Homo sapiens: one gene and its partner. The protein of the gene in region 1 purifies or fractionates together with the protein of each later gene. This does not show direct contact. Each region holds a gene or a part of one and is shown on either strand. Other genes may lie near its edges.

Region 1 (7,287 bases):
GAGATTGCTAAAATGCATGTCTGACTGGCGGCCTCCTCTGCTTAAGGACTTTCAGAAATTGCCTACCACTTCCAGTTCAGTCTCCACAGAAGGGTGCTGAACACTCTGCATGAACTGGTTCCCAAAACCATGCCTCTTATGTACCCTCCCCGGCACCCATAGATAATGCTCCTCCACACCTCTCTACTATTGCACATTCTGTTTTCTTTGCATGGAAAACCCTTATATTGTCCTTGTTTACTGGCAAACATTCATCCTGTGAAATTCCACTCTTGCTTCACGTCTTTTATGAATCCTTTCCTAAACTTTCCAGATGAAACACTCTACCTCCTCCTCTGTAGCACTTCTGAACCTTGCTTATCTCCCTATTTTCCCATGTAATACTCTACAGTGTTTTGTAAGTGTGTGCTCACTGGCTTGTCTTCCCTACTGGATTCTAAGCTCCTTTAGGGGAAAGTTGGTGTTTTGTCCATGGGGTATAACTCAGTGCCTGGTACCTGGGTGATTAATGCCTGGGTAATCACTCTGTATGTCTTCAGTTAAAGTGGTTGAACAGAGGTTGAACAGAGTTAAAGAGGTTGAACAGATAAAAGCAAACAATCACTGAGACCATGTAAATATATAGTCACTAACATTAGAATGTTATAGCCATGATTAGAGTGACTGGAAATATAAATAACAATAGCCATTTATTGAGCAATTACTCCATGTCAGGAACTGTGCAAAGAGCTTTACAACACTCATCTTCTTTATTCCTTACAACCTTGTGAGGTGGCTATTAATGTCCCCACATCACAGGTGAGAAAACTGAGACACAAACAAATTTAAAACTTGTCCAAGGCCGGGCATGGCTCATGCCTGTAATCCCAGTGCTTTGGGAGGCTCAGATGGGAGGATGGCTTGAGGCCAGGAGTTCGAGACTAGTCTGGGCAATGTAGCAAGACCTCATCTCTACAAATAATTTAAAAATTAGCCAGGCATGGTGGTGTGTACCTGTAGTCCTAGCTACTCGGGAGGCTGACGTGGGAGGATCGCTTGGCCCAGGAGATCAAGGTTGCAGTGAGCTATGATTGTGCCACTGCACTCCAGACTGGGTGACAAGAGTGAGACACTGTCTCTTAAAAAACAAAAAACAAAAACAAAAACTTGTCCAAGAGTAATGCAGGTAGGAAGCAGCAGAGCGGAGATTAAAATTCAGATCTGACATCAAAGCCCTGTACTGGACACTAGTACAGCTGATGATACAATAAACATGATTTATCTATGTTTCTATTATCTGTTTGGGAAGGGAAATGAACAGAATTATCTACCAAATTGTACAAGGAAAATAACAAATCCAGCAGTTAAGTGCAAAATAACATATCATTACGCCCTACTACCTTACAAAGAATGAATTGGAAAAGATTTTCTGAAAAAATAAAATTTTATTGAGGGTTAGGAGATGCATCCAGGCAGGAAGAAAAGCCTGAGAAAATAGAAAGGCAAGGAGAACTGTCGAGAGTGTCAACGTGAAGTCTGGTGATTGAGGATAGCCAGGGGGCAACCAGTCAGAGGCATTGAAATCAACATCAGTTCCTGCTTGGAAAGCTAATTGTGTTGTGATGAACATGACTCTCAAAGTAAATATTATATTTGGTTTTTTAAAAAAAGAAGAAGAAATAAGCTTTTAAGATCCTCCCCTTCCCCATTCTAAATATACCTGGCTGGTCTACTTTCAAGTACTATACACATTTTTTTCCTTATGATCATGTTTCTATCCTACTGGTGTTAGTTTTTTCATCTTTCTGCCAGAGTGTACACTTTCCAAGGACAAGAACCATATCTAAATGAAACTGTAAACTCTTTAGTGTCAGCTGCAGTCTTAGGGAATCTAGCATAAGAAATTAACTAACGTCGAACATCTGTAATGCTGGTATTTGTGTGACGGATGCAAGTCAGGATAAGATCTTATTCTAAAACACTAATTTCCAGGGAGGATAACTTCACCATCTCTGAGCGCTATACATTCAGAGACTGTAAAACAGTAATGATATTCTTACTGAGTAGCAAGCATTTACTGTGGGAAGAACGAGGTTTGAGCACCATTGGAAAGGATGGTATGAGCCAGGCGCAGTGGCTCACACCTGTAATCCCAGCACTTTGGGAGGCTGAGGCGGGTGGATCACCTGAGGTCAGGAGTTCAAGACCAACCTGACCAACATGGAGAAACACTGTCTCTACTAAAAATACAAAAAGTAGCCACATGTGGTGGCGGGCGCCTGTAATCTCAGCTACTCGGGAGGTTGAGGCAGGAGAATCGCCTGAACCCGGGAGGCGGAGGCTGCGGTGAGCCGAGCTCGTGCCATTGCCCTCCAGCCTGGCAACAAGAGCAAAACCCTGTCTCAGAAAAAAAAAAAAAAAAAGAAAGGCTGGTATGGCTGGGAGTGGTGGCTCACACCTTAATCCCAGCACTCTGGAAGGCCGAGACAGTAGTTCAGCTCAGTAGGTCGAGACCAGCCTGGGCAGCATGGTGAAACTCTGTCTCTACAAAAAATACAAAAATTAGCCAGGTGTGGTGGCACACGCCTGCAGTCCCAGCTACTCGGGAGGCTGAGGCAAGAGAATCCCTTGAGCCCACGAGGTGGAGCTTGCAGTGAACTGACATCCAGCCATTGCACTCCAGCCTGGGCAACACAGCAAGACTCTGTCTTGAAAGAAAAAAAAAGAAGAGAGAGAAAAAAAGTAGGATGGTATGAAATAACTGAGATATGCTCTTAATGTAAGAGATCCTTACCACCAGTTGGGGAGCCAGAACATTCAAATGTAACCTCAGGAACATATCCGTGAGTGCAAAATAACAGAGTAATGTATGAAATTAAATGCTTAAGTGGTGAGGGGCTACATGAAATTAAATGCTTAAGTGGTGAGAAGTAATGTGAACCATTTTCAAATAAGTTCTTACGTGCAGTTCAACCTAAGTAGGTTATCAAAGGTATTTATACTAAGCACTAAAAGCTAAGTATTAAATACTAAAAGCTGCCTGTGTCAACACTGGCCCAGGACATCCCCAAGGAGAGTGCTGGCTAAAGGTCTGGAACTTTAAATCTTTAGAGTTCTTTACTTAGCACATCAATCAGATATTTACCTTCTGCTTCTTTGTTCTTTAGCCCTGCTCCTGGGGGAAATCTCCATCTTAACGGGGCCTCAGTTTGAAATTGGGGTTCGGGATCCTAACTTAATGACTGAGCGTGCCTGGGTTCCACCCAGTCGCAATTGGTCAAGACTTGGTCCTCTCAAGGCCTTTCCTCCGGAGAGGTTAAATCCTCAACGCCTGCTCTCCACTTTCCAGCCTTTTCTTAAGGCTCTTCTTTCAGCCTAGTATCTGTGACCAACTTCTCCTTCCTAGGCCCTCTCATTATTATTTAAATGTCCATTCTTTTGGGGGCTTCAACTTCACTAAAAACATTCCTTCCTCTTCCTCCGCCTCGTAACTCTCTGCTCAAGCATCTGGATGCCAGAGGTCATTTGAGCTAAATGGGGTTCAAAGCTTTTCTGACTCTGGTACTGCATTCCCCACTTTCAAATCACATTTTTCACCCCAGGGCCCCCAGTGGTCTCAAACCCAAACACAGTGCGGTTAGGAAGTGGGCACTCGCCACAGAGCTAAATTGGGAATTATTTGACCTGCAGCTTCTGGAGAATGGTTTTGCCTCCTCCCCGCGACATCAACTAACTCACTTGCTGTTAGCTAAGGGCAAGGACAATGTCTCCTCTACCAGACAGGAAACTTGATGGCGGACGCTATCCGTTAGTTCCTTTTTCAATTCCCCATTCCCACCCCTTCGAGACCACGATGTTTCTTAAAATACAAAGTTTCTTTTACAAAACATCCCTCCGCAACTTTGAGTTTATATAATAAACGGAAACGTCCTTTAAACAATCAGGCTACGAAGGGGTTAAATCTAATCTCAGCAACCTGATGGATTCTGGGGGGTTTCCTTCCTCGACTCTAGAAATTAAAACGAAATTTTGCCCAAGGTAAAGATGAGAACCGTTTACATCAACTGTCAGGCTTCTGCCCCAAACAAGAATGGCTACCCACGCCCACAAACAGAGCCACTCACGTAACTAAAAATGGTTGGCTCCGGGTTCCACCACTGGAGTCACTTTCTGCCCAACTTCAAAATGGCGCCCACTAGCTTCACCAAAAGGATCGAACTTCCCAGCACCCTCTCTGGCCCGTAACGTCAGGTGACGCGAGACCCAGCCGGAAGTGAAGGAAAAAGCGCTTCAGCCCGCGGCGCCTGCGCAGAACGCTCCAGACGCTGAGAGGCAGGAGGCACTAGGGATCGTCCGCAGGATTGGGACTGATACAGAGGCCGCCACGGAGCCCGCCGGAGCCACCGTTCCTGCTGCTGCCGCCGCTGCCCGAATCGGAACCGTCGGGCCGCAGCCGCCGGCAATGCCGCGAAGGAAGGTGAGAAACGGGAGAGGAGGGATGGCGGGTTTCTAAGGACAGTCGATTGAGCACCGTGACGCAGTTGGCCACGCCTCACAGTGCTTGGGTCCCAACTTTCCGCTCCCCCGAACCTTGTTCAGCTACCCTCTCTTCTGTCCATACCCAACAGAAAAATGTGGGCCCGACCCTGGCCTCGGCCTATGCTTGCAACTATTCCCGCCCTCTGCTTGCCTGGATCGGAGGCGTTCTTATTAATTGGTCGCTGAAACGTCTGGAAGCATATTGATTGGCTGGTGACGCCGCCTGTTTGGGCTCAACGGTCACCTCCCCGCGTGCGGGGGCGGTGTCTGGCCCCGGCCCCAGCGCTCTCCCACTGGCTGGAGAGAACGATCCCTCCTCTCCTGATTGGTCGAGGTTGGCAGTCTGTCCTGTGGGGGCGCGGCTTAGGCGGACCTCGATTGGGTGGCCCGAATCCCCGCCTTTCCGAGCGGGGACGCTGATAGGTGCAGAGGCGGGGTTTTGGAGGCCTCGTTACCTTCCAGGTGAGGGGCACAACAAAGCAGAAGACTGGGTGGTGGGAAGCCAGCGCCCACTCGCAGGGGATCCCTCTCAGGCCAGTTGCCTCTTTCCTTATTTGCTAGTTCGACAGCGCCTAGAAAATGCAGTTGGTAAAAACTAAAAACTTCTAGAATTAGAAGGCACTTAGAAGATCACCCAGGAATGGCCCCGTCGTTTCTTCTTACAGCTGAACTAACGGAGGCCCATGGAGTGCCGCAAGCCACTCAGGCAGTGGCAGATCCAGAATATAGAACAAATCTAACTCAATTCAACAAATGTCTATTGACTACTTTCTGCGCGGTGGTTGCTGTGGATTCAGAAATTAATTAGATGTGATCCCTGGCTTAAGGGTGTCACAGCCCGATAGGAGAAAACAGACATGAATAATCTTAGAAGGATCTAGTAAGTTCTCAGCTTGGAGGTGTATACAAGGTGTTGCTGGAAGGAAGTGAAGGAGCAGTTAAGTCTGCCCTGGAGTACAATGGGAGATATATTGGTAAAAGCCACAGAGAAGAGCTGAGTTCCAGGATCAAGCCAGGAAGGAATAAGTCTCACGTCAAGGCTTTAAATATCTCGGTAATTAGACTATAATGGTGACTTTTAAGATTCCCCCTTCATTTCAGCCGTTTTCTGTGATTCTTGCTCATTTCCTGGCAGGTTACCCTTAAGATACTTGGAAAACTGGGTGGTATTCTTGCTCATATCAATAGAAATCTTTCTCTTCACAGCGGCTTTTCAGGTTGAAAATGTACACTTTTTAATGTCTCCTAAAATGACCTCAGCTGGTGGGTGGTATGTATGTGTTTTTTTGTTTGTTTGTTTTTGAGACGAGGTTTTGCTCTTGTTGCCCAGGTCGGAGTGCGATGGCGTGATGTTGGCTCACTGCAACCTCCGCCTCCCGGGTTCAAGCGATTCTCCTGCCTCAGTCTCTCTAGTAGCTGGGATTACAGGCGGATTCCATGACGCCCAGCTAATTTTTGTATGTTTAATAGAGACGGGATTTCACCATGTTGGTCAGGGTGGTTTCGAACTCCTGACCTCAGGTGATCCACCCGCCTCGGCCTCCCAAAGTACTGGGATTACAGGCATGAGCCACCACGCCCGGCCGGTGGTATGTATGTAAAGGCTCACCAAATGCAGGAATAATATTGGTGCCTTGAAATAGGGCCACAGTCCTCTTTCTTAATTTCCCAAATACCGGGAGTTACTTGAAAATGTACATTTTTTTAGTAACCTGTTTGGCGGCAAACCTGTCTTAATCTGTCCTGAGGCTACTTATGGTTTTTGTGTGTCTCATTTAGTGTGACTGTTTATATTTTTTGCTGCAGAAATACTATTATGTTTTGTTATTGGGTGGTATTTGCAGGATACATGCAAAGTACTCCCCTTCTAAAAATCCAAAACAATTACAAATTCTAAACACAACTGGCCCTCAGGGTTTTGAATAAATAATTGGGACTTACAGTGTGAATCTTTGTATTGTTTTCAGTAAATATTTTTTCCTTTCTGGTTTTGTAAAGGGTATAGTGTTAGTGCTTAATTGATAAAAGTTATCTTTATGGCTAAGAAAGAACTCCTCAGGAGGATAATAATTGACAAATCCTTGCTCATTGAAAAGATGGTTTTGAAAACAACTGTTTTTGAATACCCATGAGTCTTCATGTGCAAGCTGCCTTTTTGGAAGATAGATGGCTTTCATGTGGAGAAACGTCAAGGATAGATGGCATACGCACTAACAATTTTCATCTTTTTCTGCTTAAATTCTTTTGGGATTAGAGTTGTGGTCCATGATATTTTGAGATAGTGTATGGTTTTTAAAAAATGTGATAGCTTTTCATGGAGACATTGAACAAAAGCTACTCTAAGTTAAATGAGGTCCAGCACCAACGATTTTCTCACTACAGTGGACCTTTTTTTGTGATATTGATCTCCAAATGGTCTTGGTTAATACTTAGTACTAATACAGTAAGAATTAATTCTCTTCATGGCCGGGTGTGGTGGCTCACGTCTGTAATCCCAGCACTTTGGGAGGCCAAGGCGGGTGGATCACCTGAGGTCAGGTGTTCAAGACCAGCCTGGCCAACATAGTGAAACCCCGTCTCTACTAAAAATACAAAAATTAGCTGGGCATGGTGGCGGGCGCCTGTAGTCCCAGCTACTCGGGAGGCTGAGGCAGGAGAATCACTTGAACCCGGGAGGCGGAGGTTGCAGTGAGCCACGATTGCGCCCTTGCACTCCAGCCTGGGCAATGAGAGCGAATGAAACGGAAGCTCTTCATTTATTTAACAAAA
Region 2 (7,035 bases), on another chromosome or scaffold:
AAAAACAAAAAATACCCAGTTTACATTTAGGATTTAGTTCCCATTTACCCTATAAAAATCTGCCAACATATTAGAGAAATTGAGGCCTTGTACAAATGTAAAGTGCTAGTAATTTTATCAGGAAAGCCTCTCAAAGTTCACGTCAAGATGAGAAAAAGAAAAACAAATCAAAGTTCACATCAAGAATCTGGGGAGACATCTTCAAATACAACAGAAGACAGCACAGCAAAGTAGTTAAGAAATTAAACTCTTGGAGCCTATCTGGGTTCAAAACCCAGCTCTTGTTATCAGTTCTGTAACCTTCAGCAAGTTACTTAACTTCTCCGAGGCTTACACTCCCCATGTGTTGTTGTAAGGATTAATGAACGAACACACATAAAACTCTCAGTACAGCACATACCATGCAGTCAATAAACACAGCTGTAGTTATTGTCATACGAAGGATAGTAAATTTTAATGTCTTACTTAAAGTATTACAAACTGCTAATACTGTACTATAGAATGATGAGCTCTGAGAAGGATGAGCTCAATAAAATAGGATGCAACACCAAAAATAGGTCTGTATGTTCCTGATTTGTAGAAAAAAGCACAACTGACTCAATCATGGCCTGCATTTCAGCCCTTTCTCCAAGTTACCCCAGCCTAAGCAGACAACCCAACCTACAGTTATCTTATTTACTGGTTTAACATCCATATCCATGAGAACAGACACCTTAGAAGATAATCTTCATGAGAACAGGCACCTTAGTGCTTAGAACAGTACCTGGCATACAGTAGGTGTTCAGTTATCAATATTTGAATGAGTGATCTATAGAAAGCACATGTAGCACCAACCTGCTCAGAAAATCATCAGAAAAGATAAACCAAGGGGTAAGTGAAAAAGGGAGTGTGGGGGATGGGTTAGTGACCAGTTCTTTCAAGGTTATTTCTAATTCTGGGATTATATGATTCTGGTCTAATAAATAAGGTCTTCCCTTATATACTTATTACCACAGTATGGGGGGAAAAAGAAAAACAACCCTTGCAGTTGAAGCCTTTGGATCTCCTATTTTAAACCCTGAAATATTAATACATACTTCCTCCAAGGGGCCCCAGATAAATCAAGGGCATTGCACTGGAGTTCTGCAGAAAGGCAAACACGCCACCTGAATTAGCAGGCTAACCAGAGCCTGGCCTTGCTTGCTCTTGTGGCTCATAGCTGAAAAGAATGCCCTTCATAGAAGAAGGGGCCAACAACACACCTTTCACTTTTAGTCAAGAGCAAGAAAAGGATAGTTTGATGGGTCCAATCCTACCCTGACCCCAACAAAGTGGGCTTCCAGGTACCTTATCTTTGAAGGGAGTCAGGAACTTCAACCCAGGGCCAGGCTAGAAGCATCGTGTAAGATTCTGAAATCTTTCTCTTTCCTGTGCCTGATAATTTTTTCCCATCTACTTCCCCTATATCTCTGGAGGCTGCAATAGGAAGCTAGGGCAACTCTGAGGGTTGGCGGGGGGTAGGGGAATCTCAGAGAAACCACAGCAGGGAACCAGTCCAGGCCAACGAGTAGCTGGGGACCCCCTCAGCCCTACCAGTAGTCCTACAGCCCAGGTAGACTGAATGCCTAAAAGAACACATGCCCAGTCTGCCTTGGAAGCACTTCAAACACAAATAGTCTTCTGGTGCTGCCCTGGGACCTTTCCTCCCCTACTCTGAACCTAAGACCCATTCAGCAGTCATGGGTGGGGCCATGACATTAGCCTTCAGGACAAGTCACTTTTCCTTTGTGGCAGTGAGGGTTTCTCATTTCTAAGAGTCCTCCCCGCCCTGGTGTCTTGCAGAACACAGAACACAGAGCAGGGGCTCCATAAGCTCTTGTGCCTGGAAGAAACTTTAAGGTCTGGTCTGAGAAATCCTCCCTTCAGATAAAAGAATGGGAAGAAATCCATCTCTTTTCAGCTCAAGGACAGCAGAAGAGCTTTGGGGCCTTTGTCTGAATAAAAGGCAATTCCAGGCCAGGCGCAGTGGCTCACGCCTGTAATTCCAGCACTTTGGGATGCTGCGGCGGGCAGATCACTTGAGGTCAGGAGTTCAAGACCAGTCTGGCCAACATGGTGAAACCTCATCTCTACTAAAATACAAAAATTAGCTAGGCGTGGTGGCACGTGCCTATACTCCCAGCTACTCAAGAGGCAGAGGCAGGAGAATCACTTGAACCCAGGAGGCGGAGGTTGCAGTGAGCCGAGATCGGGCCACTGCACTCCAGCCTGGGCAGCAAGCAAGACTCCGTCTCAAAAAAAAAAAAAAAAAGGCAATTCCAAATTTCCTACTTGGTCATTTCATACACCTACACCACACCTCTATAAAGAGGCTATGACGCCCCAAAAGGCAAAGAGCAAAACCAACTCTGTAATGGCTGGGTTGTCTAAATGTGTGTAGGGGCAGCAGGGGACTTTGGCTCAAATGTTAATTTCACTGAACAACAGGAGATTTAGCTTTTCTTATCCTCTAGAGTCCAAATTCAGCCCCACAAACCCTGTAAGCATCAGCACTACTCTTCCTCTCTCAGATCAGATCTGAGAGTCAAGGGTCACCCTGTTTCCTAGGAACTCCCAGAGTTACAGATAAGAGGCCTCAGGAAATAGCAGGAGTGGGGGAAGAGAGAAAAAGGTAAGCAGGAAGAGGTTCAATCTGTAGCTGAATGGAGAGTAAAAGGAGGGGTAGCAGAGCTGCTGACAAAGCTTTGGGAATGTGTTCTTACCTGCAAGCTTCAAATGCCAGTCCACCACTGAGACCCAAACTACATTCAGAGTCAGACCCGCTTTCGGTGTGTTTTCCAAAGCCGTTGGTCATGCCTGCCAAGGACACACACAGTGAGTCTGAGTGCAGAAATCCCCCTTCCCAACACATGCTACAGGGTGAGGCAGCCACCTCAGGAGGGCTCAGTGACGAGTGGAGAGGATGGCTATTCCTTTCCCTGTGAGAAATGGGTCTTGGGTGATAGAGAAGATCTGATCAAGATAAAAGTTTGGGGGGAAATATTGCTGGCTAGGGCAAGGAGCAGACACTGCAATTTCCTTCCCATCCTTCTGCTTTTTGTTTAAGGAAACCATAGCACACAGCTCACTCAGCTACTGTCATTTGGCTACACAGGGAGATACTAAGACTTCTCCTACCCTGGCTGGCTCACAAGTCCTTGGATCTGCTTCTAATTTCAAACCTCGATTATCAGGTAGCCTTCTCTGCCTTTTTCAGGAGCCCAACCACCTTGCCTCTTCAGATAAAGACTCACATAACCTATGCATCACACAGCTGGCAACAGCTAGTTTGATTCTTTGGGGGTGGTGTCAAGAGAGACTAGAGATGGATAAGGGCCCTTTGTCAACCACACCCTGAGATATCTCACAGGGCTAATCCAAAGTGAGGATGGGGGCACTCTTCAGCGGAACTAAAGCAGCCCGGAACTTCCTGGGAGGGAGAGTCAGAACCTGGGGTTCTAGGCTGGGCTCTGAAACACAGGTTCCTTTTCTCTTGCTTTGAGGTCTCTTGACCTCTCCTTTGGTGAAGTGAAGATAATACCTTACTTACTTACTATTCAGTATGTATGAGAGAAGGTCTGTTTATAGTGGGGAGCCCTTCAGAGGCGAATGAAGGCTGTTTGGTCATCCCAGGTATATGACCTTGAAGTGAAGGCTTCCACTCTCCTATCTATCCAATTTATTTTTCTATTTTTTGAGATAGGGTCTCGCTCTGTTGCCCAGGCGGAGTGCAGTGGTGTAAACAAGGTTCACTGGAGCCTCAATAGCATGGGTTCAAGTGATCCCCTGCCTCAACCTCCTGAGTAGGTGTGACCACAGGCATGAATGAGCCCTATGCCCAGCTAACTTTTTAACTTTGCAGAAACAGGGTCTTGCCATGTTGCTCAGGCTGGTCTCGAGCTCCTGGGCTCAAGTAATCCTTCTGCCTCAGCCTCCCAAAGTGCTGGGATTACAGGAATGAGTCACTGTGCCTGGCCTTTATCCAATTGCTAGCCACACTAAAAGTCCTATAATTCTAACAGCTGAGCCAAGAGGTGTACAGAGATGGGCCAGGCACCTGATTTGAAAGCTGTAGATTACAGACACCGTAACTAGAAAACTGTGAGGCAAGTCCCTCCTATAAGAGCAGGTGTCTGAGCCACAATGTCTATCCTCTGACCTGGCTCTGCCTCTAACATTATGACCACAATTTAAATCACTGAAGCCATCTGTGTCTTGGGTGCCTCACTTACGAAGGATCAACACCTCTTTTTGTGAGATTCAACTAAGGTTGTATAGAAGTATCCCTGAGTGCCAGGCAACTGGGATGGTGAGAGACAGGATTCTAGCAGTATCTCCAAGCAACAGGCCCCCTCAGGTTGGATGGGCCTCATGTACAGAGCTACTTCCCAACAGCAGGATCTTTCATTCTTTTAATGCAGTGTTCTCAGCACTGTATGGCTAAGCCTGATTCAACTGACAGGATGACAGTAACTGCTACCATCTACTGCTATATGCCAAGTGCTTTATAAAGGGTATTTCTAGTTCTTAGAACCCTGCAAGGTAGGTATCAGAAACCCCATATTAAGAATAAGGAAACAGGCTCAGAGAAGTTAATTAATTTTCCTGTCGTTACACAGCTAGTAAGAAATTGGGGATTTGAGTGCAGGTATGCCTAAATCCAGGCCTTAAGCTCTTGCCTCTATATACCAACTTACTCCCCTAACACAGAAAAGTTTTGGCCAGACGAGATGGGAAGGTATTGTTGAAAACAAAATGTCAGGCAAGAAGACAGAAAAGCAAGTGCTGGCCACACAGTCCAAAGTCACCACATAAAAGTACATGAGGGACACAAAGAGCAAAAGCCAAGAGCAGCCCTCCCTGCCAAGAAAGTGGGTCTTCCCTAACCCACCAAGACCTAAGTAGTCTGCCCGGCATTCAAAGTCCTTCACATTCAGTCCCATCTCACCCATCCAGTCTTGGCTCCTGATGCTCTGGGAAGCCCCTCTCTAAGCTGTCCCTCACAGAGATTCTGTCCTCCTTGTTCCCACACACCCAGGCCTGAGGCCTTCATAACCATTCCTTTCCAGTCTGCCCTCATCCCACAGGGCCAGCTCAGCCCAACTCCTACAGCTCAAATTCCCTGAACACCTCTAGCAATGCTACCTCTCACCTGACAAATAACAACATACTGTCCACCACTGTGATTTCTCTACATTTTGAGAGACTCATTTGCCCAATGGCCTGTGAACCTTCCAGAGCTGGAATTAAGTCTGACTTATTTTATTACTTCCTCACAGCTACTCATGACTAGCTCCTGCTGGATGTATATTAAGAACACTTTAGGTGGGGCGCGGTGGCTCATGCCTGTAATCCCATCACTTTGGGAGGCTGAGGCGGGCAAATCACTTGAGGTCAGGTGACCAGCCTGGCCAACATGGTGAAACCCCATCTCCACTAAAAACACAAAAATTAGCAAGGCGTGGTGGTGGGCACCTGTAGTCCAGCTACTTGGGAGGCTGAGGCAGGAGAATTGCTTGAACCCAGGAGGCAGAGGTTGCAGTGAGCTGAGATCATGCCACTGCACTCTAGCCTGGGCGACAGAGCAAGACTCATCTCAAAAAAACAAAAAAACAAAAAAAAACCCTCTCTTTAGTGATGGAACCTCCACTACCTACCTCTATCACCACCTCACCCCACCCCACCCCCTCTGCTGCAGCCAAACTGGTTCCCTCAGTGTTCCTCAGACATGCAGGCATGTTCCCACCTCCAGGACCTATGTACTTTCTAGTCTATCTTTTTGGAATGTTCTTCCCCTAGACATACAAATAGCTCATGCCTTCAACTCCTTCAGATCTTTACTCAAACGTTACCTCCTTAGAAAACCTGGCCACCCTCTCTAAGACCACTCTAGCATTCCTTCCCTGCTGGATCTTTCTCCAAATCTTCTAATACAAGATACGGTTTACTCATTTGCTTTTAATATATTCCCCCATAAGAGAGCAGATTTTTGTCTGTTTTGCTCATTGATTTTTTCCCCCAATGCCTAGAACAGTGCCTAACACAAATATTTGATGAATGAACTGAAATGAAGGTAGGAATCATTTTACTTTATACAACATTGCATTACCCTCAGGGCCAATGAATCCCAGACACAATCTGGCTCTCTGGAAAATACCTGCTCAAAGCCTATTTCCCCTGGCTGCTACTAACATGCCAGGCCCAACTGTGAGCTATGGTGCCCTCAATGCTACTATTGCTGTCCAATGGTGCCATTAGAGAGATGGCCAATTGGGGAAGGTGCTGGTTGGCAAGGCAAAGCAGAAAAGCAGATGCGAAGTATCAAGAGAAGTCACAGGCAGGGTCACCTGTCTCTTCCTCCTGCTGGGGGGACCTCTCCCCTTCGCTCTCACTACAGCTCCTGCTCCTTGGCCGCTTCCGGGAGTGGCGCTCTTCCTCGATGCTGGCTGGAGAGGCAGGAGAGCCTGCCACACCATGGTCCTCGCCATTCTCCAGGACCCTGTCTGGGCTTCTCTGTAGCTTAACCCCATTCTTGGCCTTCTTGAAGAGGACTGATGTGCGGCGACCCACACCACTAAGTGGGGTACCGGCCGGGGTGTCAGGGGCCATGAGGGATAGTCTGTTGATGCCATTGTCACTGAGCAAGCGTTGCAAAGGCTCATTCCCTAGCTGCAGTGGTGATTTTTCCAAGAGCTCATCTTCTTCCACCTTTCTGGGCTTTAGGAACCTGCTTGGAGGTTTGCTATCATTAATGGGTTTCAGAGTAGGGGGCTCCGGGGGGGATTCTTGCTCAGACAAGGAAGGTGCAGGCCCAGTGGGCTCCAGGGTTGGCGGAGGAGGCAGTTTGGAGTCATCTATTAGAAAAAAAGAGAATCTGCTTGAACATTTTAGAAAGAGTCTGCTCCTACAAGCTAGATACTGACACTGACAACCAAGGACCAAAAGCATTGGCTGTTATAAGGCTTGAGATGCATTCAAGGTCTTAGATCTGAAGCAAAGAGAAAGGAGGATTAGGTT

The links. The genes of interacting proteins can lie anywhere in the genome.
Region 2: the proteins of KAT7 (region 1) and BRPF3 purify together in Homo sapiens (affinity purification with mass spectrometry; 4 studies listed by BioGRID and IntAct, with this or other methods). This does not show direct contact.

The regions. Positions count from the first base shown.
Region 1 is NC_000017.11:49,784,394-49,791,680, forward strand, and holds the start of KAT7 (histone acetyltransferase KAT7), read left to right. Parts: upstream 1-4,287; 5' UTR 4,288-4,441; coding exon 4,442-4,456; intron 4,457-4,669; exon of another isoform or gene 4,670-4,717; intron 4,718-7,287. UniProt on the Homo sapiens protein: Catalytic subunit of histone acetyltransferase HBO1 complexes, which specifically mediate acetylation of histone H3 at 'Lys-14' (H3K14ac), thereby regulating various processes, such as gene transcription, protein ubiquitination, immune regulation, stem cell pluripotent and self-renewal maintenance and embryonic development.
Region 2 is NC_000006.12:36,213,717-36,220,751, reverse strand, and holds part of BRPF3 (bromodomain and PHD finger-containing protein 3), read right to left. Parts: intron 6,893-7,035; coding exon of another isoform or gene 6,876-6,892; exon of another isoform or gene 6,873-6,875; coding exon 6,366-6,872; intron 2,836-6,365; coding exon 2,742-2,835; intron 1-2,741. UniProt on the Homo sapiens protein: Scaffold subunit of various histone acetyltransferase (HAT) complexes, such as the MOZ/MORF and HBO1 complexes, which have a histone H3 acetyltransferase activity.